Linked DNA regions of Homo sapiens. The protein of the gene in region 2 interacts with the protein of the main gene of each other region in a pairwise test. Each region holds a gene or a part of one and is shown on either strand. Other genes may lie near its edges.

Region 1 (3,917 bases), on a different chromosome or scaffold from region 2:
GAGCCCAGTGCAGAATCAAGGCAAGAGGTCAGTCATCAGTGTGTCCTGCTTTTGCTTGGTGTTGATTCCTTCACCAAATGACAAAGTCAAAGTACAAAGTGAAAGTTTGAATTTTGCAATGATAACTTACCATTTGATTGGTTTCGTAGTCACAGATTACACGCTGGTCAGTCTGCTCACCAGTGAACTCCATCCCTGGCTACACGGGGCTCTGAGTGAGAATACCTCATACTCCATCTCTAGGTGTCCATCTCCTTGTAACTAGGAGTGTTGATACTTAATATTACCCTCATATTTCAAGTAGCATTTCTTTTCTTTCCTTTCTTTTTTTTTTGAGACAGAGTTTTGCTCTTGTTGCCCAGGCTGAAGTGCAGTGGTGCAATCTTGGCTCACTGCAACCACTGCCTTCTGGGTTCAAGTGATTCTCATCCCTCAGCTTCCAAGTAGTTGGAATTACAGGTGCATACCACCACGCCCAGATAATTTTTGTATTTTTAGTAGAGATGGGGTTTCACCATGTTGGCCATGGCTGGTCTCGAACTCCTGACCTCAGGTGATCCACCCCCCCTTGGCCTCCCAAAGTGCTGGGATTATAGGTGTAAGCCACTGCACCTGGCCTGAAGTGGCATTTATGTTTACAGTGCAAGGGGAAGTGTATGGGCTAATAAGAAAATTGATTTAAAAATTCTAATTTATCATTATGTTCCCCATCATCTAAAGCCATCATGTCCCTAGAGTACCACCAACTGACCAACCCTTTATCCCCGATTAGGGCTCTGGAGAAGTTCCTCTTATACCCAGTTGATTTGGTTTAATTTTTTTGTGTGTTGTTTATTACTTAAAATGCCTGCTAAAAATGCATTTTATATAAAAACTGGTATTGTTTTTAAAAAGTATGAATCATTTTTTATAATTATCTTTTTGTTTCTTTTACAATTCAGGTATACTACTTTGAGTAGTTTTTCAGATTTTTAGTGTATCTGAAAACAGTAATTTAGTTATTTTAATTATGTAACTCAAGGAAATATAACTTTAAGATTAGTTTTCAATTCAACTGGTTAATCATGAACATTTGGGGAACACTTTTGCCATGCCGAATGAGGAAAACAATTATTATTTAAAACAGATGGTTTGATTGAATTCAAGTAATAATTTACATACTCAGAATCAAATTACATAATTATTTCAACAATCATGTATTTTTATGAATTTCAATATATTGTTTATAGCTATCTGTGCTCTAAAGCAAAACAGCATGTTTTAGACAATGCAACAAGATTTTTAAAGTTACTTATTGATATAACATATTAACTTTTGCCTTTAATTCAATAACCCAACAAGATTTTAAACCATCAAGAATGGGTATGGTTAGAGAGTCACATATTGAAGAGATAACAGCAGAGCATCCTCTGTATGTGCTTAGTGCATTGCTAGCTAAGGCACTAAGGAGGAATGCTTAAGCCCAGGAATTTGAGGTTACAGTGAGCTGTGATCGCACCACTGTACTCTAGCCTGGGTGACAGAGCAACACCCTGTCTCTAAAAGGGAAAAAAAATGATATAACCCTCACTTGTAAGTACCCATTTGAAACAATCTCCATGATAAATTATTAAATTAAAAAAGCAAGGTGCTGAAGAATTGGTAAAGCAGGCCATCAGCGCATTTAAAAATTGTATGTATGTGCTATGTACATAAGATAATATGCATGTGTATGTACAGACTATCTTTGAAGGAATATTTCTAACTCTGGTTGCAGCTTGGTGATTAGGGCATAGGAGTGGGAAGGACACTTCTTTTTTACTGTACACCCCCTTTAACCACTTGAATTTTGTTCAGGTGCGTGCATTACCTGCTAAACATTTTATTTTATTTTTTCTTTTGAGACAGAGTCTCGCTTTGTTGCCCAGGCTGGAGTGCAATGGTGCCATCTCAGATCATTGCAACCTCTGCCTCCCGGTTTCAAGCAATTCTCATGCTTCAGCCTCCTGAGTAGCTGGAACTACAGGTGCACACCACCACACTCAGCTAAGTTTTGTATTTTCAGTAGAGATAGGGTTTCACCATGTTGGCCAGGCTGGTCTCCAACTCCTGACCTTAGGAGATCCACCTGCCTCAGCCTCCCAAAGTGTTGGGATTACAGGCGTGAGCCAACACACCCAGCCCTGTTAAACATTTTTTAAAAAGTCAGCGTCACTTAATGTGATGCTAGGTGTTAGTGTAGGGCTAAGAACCTGTGTGCTTAAAATGAAAAAAAGTTACTATGATTAAATTTTAAAAATTGTACTCTAGAGTATGACATTTTAACAAACATTTATTGTGCAACTCGTAGGCATTGCCAAGCACTGTTTTAGGCACTTGAGAGTCACAGAAAAAATATTCATTCTTGTTTCTCTCAGAGATGGCATAATTCTACCAAGAATGGAGTCCCATAAATGATCTAGGGCTACTATTTGATTTTTAAGATAACTAGCAAAGTGCGTAGCAAATAGTAGGGGCTCATAGACATAGGTTCACTAAAACTCTACCACTTATTATGTGTGATTTTAGGCCAATTAATTAATCAAGCTCCAGTTTCTTTAGTAAATTGGGACTATAGTAATGCCACTTCAGGACACTGTTTTGATGATTAGAAAATATATAATGCATATAAATTACTTAGTACGGTGCTTGCCATGAAATATAGCACAACTGTTACCTATTTTTATAAATTAGTGTTGTTTGTAAGTTTTCCTTTCAAATCATGGGGTAAAATCACCTAAAACTCAAAGTGCAAGAATCAATACTATAGTAGCTGTAGCAGTTTGAGACAGAAAGCGCAAGAAGAATGAGCAGGGAATGATTGGTGATAACTGAGCTGGGCCTTGAAGAGCAGATGGAATTCCAGTAGGTGGAGAAATGAGGAGGGCGTTTTAGCCAGAGGGGCAAAGGCAAGGTGTGGATGCAGGGGATGTTTTGGGAATGGAGGGGAGCAGGCTGGTTCAACTACAGTGCGTGACGAGGAGTCTGTGTGGAAGGAGTGTTGGTAGGAGATGAGGGCACCAAGTAAGCGGCACTTGGCCCTGGGAGTTCTTGCAGGCCATGCTTGAAAGTCGGGATTTATCTTCCAGTATTAAAGGTGGACACCAGACGGCAGAAGCCTGAAGAGAGGATAGGGAGGAAGTCGGAATAGGAATAATGAAGAGAGAGATGGCAGCTGTACTTGAGAGCGGCCATAAGGTCAAGGGGAAAATTAAAGGCACCAGGTAGAGATGGAGGTCTTAAATGAATGAACAAGCAGAGACAGCCGGGGACAAAATCAAGATGTGGGGTTAGCTTCCTAAAGGCATATAGTTCCTTCTGAGACAGGCAGAAAAGGAGAAAAATGGTGAGGATCTAGATGAGGTGAGTTGTGGAGGGAAGGAAAGTTGAGGGGCTTCGTGTCTACTGGCTTCTATTTCTTGACATTTGGAATGAAATGACCTGCTGAGAGTGTGTGTGCCTGGAGTGGGATTTTAAGGGTTAGGTGAGGGGTGAGGTGAGATGAGAGGTGAGGATTTGGACTATCCACTGTGGGAAATGGAAAAAAGAACTGTGGGAGGAGTGGAGGGCTGGCTGAGCAAGCTATACTGAGGTCCAGGTGATGGCTTGATGCTGAAAGCTGGTCTCAGGTGAGGGCTGCTCATGGGGCCCCGTGGTTCTCTCTAATAGCAGCTGGGACCCTGGAAGCAAAAAGAGAGGCAAAGGTGATCACATCTACCCAGTGGCAAGGGCTGCGGGAATTGAGGGTGCTGGCGTGAGTGTACCTGATTCAATGGGGGATAGGGGAGAAAGTGAAACCTGGGAAAAATTGCTTGTGTCAGTCTTAAGAGAAAAGGGTGGGGTCAGGCACTTGGTGGGGGCCAAGGATCAGAAAGCAGGTGCATGGGAATGGGAAAGGA
Region 2 (3,917 bases):
TGACAGAGTGAGATGCAGTCTAAAAAAAAACTTATTAAAAAAATATATTATATATATGGAAATAAACAATAATTAGGAAATAAGAATTTCTTATTTGTGCTTAGAATACACAGTGAAGTAAACAGAAAAAAAGAACAACAACAAAAAAGAATACATAGTGAAGTAATTTGAAAAGATTAAATGTTAAGACAGGCATGGTGGCTTATGCCTGTAATCCTGGCACTTTGGAAGGTCGAGGTGGGAGGATTGCTTGAGCCCAAAAGTTCAAGACCAGCCTGGGCAACATGATGAAACATCATCTCCACAAAACATACAAATATCAGCTCTGTTATATATGAAATAAACAGAGTTTTCCAAAGATCTTTTATAAGATGGGAGAAAGGAGATGAAATAGAAGAGAGATTGACTTGGTCCTTCAGGATTGGAATCTGATAGATGGGACACTAGAGGAAGTTTAATGTAATCTTTTTGGCTATCTAGATCTAGTTTTTAGGCCCTGGCTAGAAGCCAGTTAGTTCCTCTTCTAGAATGGCCAATTAAGTCTACAATGCCGGCCACAGTGAGCTTGTGGTATTTAGCTTGCCCTAATCCTATCCCCATATCCTCAGCTTCAAGGTAGCCTTGAAAAGCAACCACCTTTTAACAACAGTAACAGTGAATATCTGCACCCTAGCAGAATATCTGCACTTGAGGAGGTAGAAATGGCTCTGAAAATGGCAGAAATGGCTCTGAAACACCCAAAAGCCTCCATCCCCACAGAATGTTCACTACTAAGCCTGCTTTGCAGCCTGCTGAATAGGTCTATTCTCATAGTATTTCTCTATTTGGCTTGACTTTATTTATGTGAACACTCCTACCCATAGGGCACTTGTCAAAAAACAATCAGCAGCAATTGTTTAACACTAGAGTGTTTAGGGGAGTGACAGTGTGTGTCTGCGTGATAGATGGAAGTAATAAGAGGGCACAGGGGAAAGGGGCCATACGCATAAGATGATGGAACAGAGAGCCTGGAGGGTGGGGTATAGAGAGTGTAGGGGAAGGGAGAAGGCAGACAGGTAAAAGGAAAAAGAATGTTAAGTGTTGTTCAGCCTCAAGACTGACATGATGAAAGTACCTTTATTGTGGTTTTTGTAAATTAGAATGCATGCTTTATTATTAAAAAAAACACAATTGAAAATGTTAAGGACCTTTTCCTCCTTGCTTCTTATAAGAAACCATCATAAGACATAACTTGTAATAATTCTGTAGAAATATACATATATAAAGATATATGTATATATATATTTTAAAATAGTATGTTTTTATTGCAAAATATTCATTAGTGTCATCATATCATAGCCAGATCTACAACCCCAGAGTAATTCCCATGGTTATGTTACATGGCAAAAAGGACTCTGCATTGTAATTAAGTTTATTAATCAGCTGACTTTAGCATTGGGAGATTATTCTGGATTGCCCAAGCACTTAAGAATAGGAGAAACCGGAGAGATGCAGCAGCAATAGTCAGTGGTTTCAAATATGAAAGGGATTTCACATACTATTGTTGGCTTTAAAGATAGGAAGTCGTGGGGGCAAGGAAACTCTCTAAAGGAAATTAATCTGGCAACAACCTAAATAATTCTAGAAAAGGATTCTTTTCCAGAGTCAAGAACAGAGCCAGGTGGTTCTTCTCTTCTAAAGACATTTCCATGGGCCAGTTCCACCGCAAGCTTCTCAGAGAGAATATGTTCTGCCGTACGGACACCGAACGTCCCCTAAGATGGCCGCCCCCATGATGCTCTCCCCTAAGGGCTCTGGCTCCGTTACCTGCAACGCACCGCTCGCTTATTTTTTGTTCTAGTCTCTCTTGCTTCAGTTTTTATACGGCTTCTAAAACGCTTCGCATTTACAATAGTGACTGAGGTGCCCAGAGGTGACTTTAATTTTCCATTGAGCTGAGACGTCACAGCCATCATAACCGCTAAGAAGGGATGCCGCGCCTTTGTGGTAATAATGGGTTCTGGCCTTTGAGAAGTTTGCGCCGTTCACTGTCCCCTGCGAGGAGAAGACTAACTTATTTCTGTTCCGTGTCTGTTCAGAGGACTTTACCCCCACGCCGTGTCTGCCTGTGTGAACTCAAGCCTCTGATAAGCTCTCCATTTTCTGCCAGGGCTGAGGTGTCTGGAAATCGGACAGTTTAAGAGGCCTCCGTCCACCGCGTCTCCCGGCCGCTGTGCCTTCTGTACGTCACGTACTCAAAGATGGCCGCCCCCAGAGCGGCGAGGCGACGCCGGCGCGGACGCGTCTCCTCCTGAGGAAAAGCCGGAAGGCCGCATTCCGCTCTCCATGGAAACGCGGCTGACCGTCTCTGGAGGTTTAGAGGGGGAGGGAGTTGGGCGAGGGGCCCAGAAGTGGAAGAAGTTTAGGGAAGTAAGTTCAGCTTTTAAGAGGTCGCGGCGATTCCAAGGAGAGTCAGGTCAGTGTGTGGGTCAGGGCGTGGAAACGTGGTGGGAGGGAGCTTTCTGAGGGCGTCTGCGTTGTTGGTGGCGCTATATGGTGGAGGTAGCGCGGGGGTTGGGGGAGGCGGGGGCGGGTGTTTCCTTTTGGAGGGGAGCTGGTAGGAGTCCCTGGTGGGTGTCTGTGATAGGATATCTTTGGGGTCCCTCATGGAGGCTCTGGTGGTCAGTGATTAAAGGCCTGAATAGATCAACGACCAAGAGTACTGAGGTCAGGGATTGTGGTCCTCGCGGGTCACTCCCCAGTGGGGCTCAGTGATTGAGAATCGATGGGGTGGCTTTTGTCAACGAATGTGACTTCTGTTTCACATTCTGGATTAATCTGAGGCTTAGTGATTGATGAATCATTAAGGGAATCCAGTGTACGTGTGTGTCTATTCCAGGTTTTCCTATTTTATCTGGCGGGGTGGTGGTCTTTTGTCTAGAGACAAGTGAAAGCCGAAGTCTTTTCACAAGAGCCCTGGCTGGTTTTGTGTGTGTGTGTGTGTGTGTGTGTGTGTGTGTGTGTGTGTGTGTGTGTGTGTGTTGAGCTCAAACTTTGGCTGGAACAGACTTGATGAACGTTAACATTTCCTAAAAGTTTCAGGTCCGAGTACCTCCTCCACAATGAGTTTTCTAATCCTCTGGCTTTCCACAACAACCCATGCTCTTGAACCTGCAGAAAATGAAAGTTTTTTGGGGGTGAAGGGGGGCGGATGAATAGGCTTTCTATTTAACATTATGTTTTTAAATTACTGCGCACAAATTAACAAGAGCCTATTTTTATCCTTCCTCTTGCAAATGTACTGCATATTTTTATGGGTGTTTCAGGTTTTGTATGTTAGTATATAAAGGCGGCTATTTTCCCAGTATTTATATTTTTGAATTGTTTTCTAAATTTGTATTTATAACTCGTATTCCTTTTCTCTGTCTCCCTCTTTTTTTCTATGTGTTTCTTGTTCTTCATATTGAAGTGTGTATATAAACATTTTTTTTTTTTTTTTGAGATGGAGTCTTGCTTTTGTCGCCCAGGCTTGAGTGCAATGGCTGGGCTCACTGCAAACTTCGCCTCCTGCGTTCAAGCCATTCTCCTGCCTCAGTCTCCGAGTAGCTGGGATTACAGGTGCCTGCCACCATGCCTGGCTAATTTTTTCTATTTTTAGTAGAGACAGTGTTTCACCATGTTGACAAGGCTGGTCTCGAACTCCTGACCTCAGGTGATCTGCCCATCTCGGCCTCCCAAAGTGCTGGGATTACAGGTGTAAGCCATCATGCCTGGCCGTATATAAACACTTTTAAATATATATAAAGACTTTTAAAGAGGTGTGAGAGTAACATTGTATAAAGGAAAAAATGTAGTTTCTCACCATCCATATGGCCTGATTTAAAAAACTGATATGAGAATTACCTACTGCTTAGGCATGATGCTATGTGGATTCTCCT

Evidence for each region.
Region 1: the proteins of ZNF432 (region 2) and DCDC2 interact in binary tests that used the Homo sapiens proteins (3 or more experiments, as listed by UniProt).

Annotation. Positions count from the first base shown.
Region 1 is NC_000006.12:24,302,446-24,306,362, reverse strand, and holds part of DCDC2 (doublecortin domain-containing protein 2), read left to right. Parts: intron 1-3,917. UniProt on the Homo sapiens protein: Protein that plays a role in the inhibition of canonical Wnt signaling pathway. May be involved in neuronal migration during development of the cerebral neocortex. Involved in the control of ciliogenesis and ciliary length.
Region 2 is NC_000019.10:52,047,233-52,051,149, reverse strand, and holds the start of ZNF432 (zinc finger protein 432), read left to right. Parts: upstream 1-2,311; 5' UTR 2,312-2,455; intron 2,456-2,509; exon of another isoform or gene 2,510-2,541; intron 2,542-2,588; exon of another isoform or gene 2,589-2,609; intron 2,610-3,917. UniProt on the Homo sapiens protein: Homologous recombination repressor that functions as a poly(ADP-ribose) (PAR) reader regulating DNA damage response and PARP inhibition. Once recruited to DNA lesions via DNA-, in a PAR-dependent mechanism, stimulates PARP1 activity.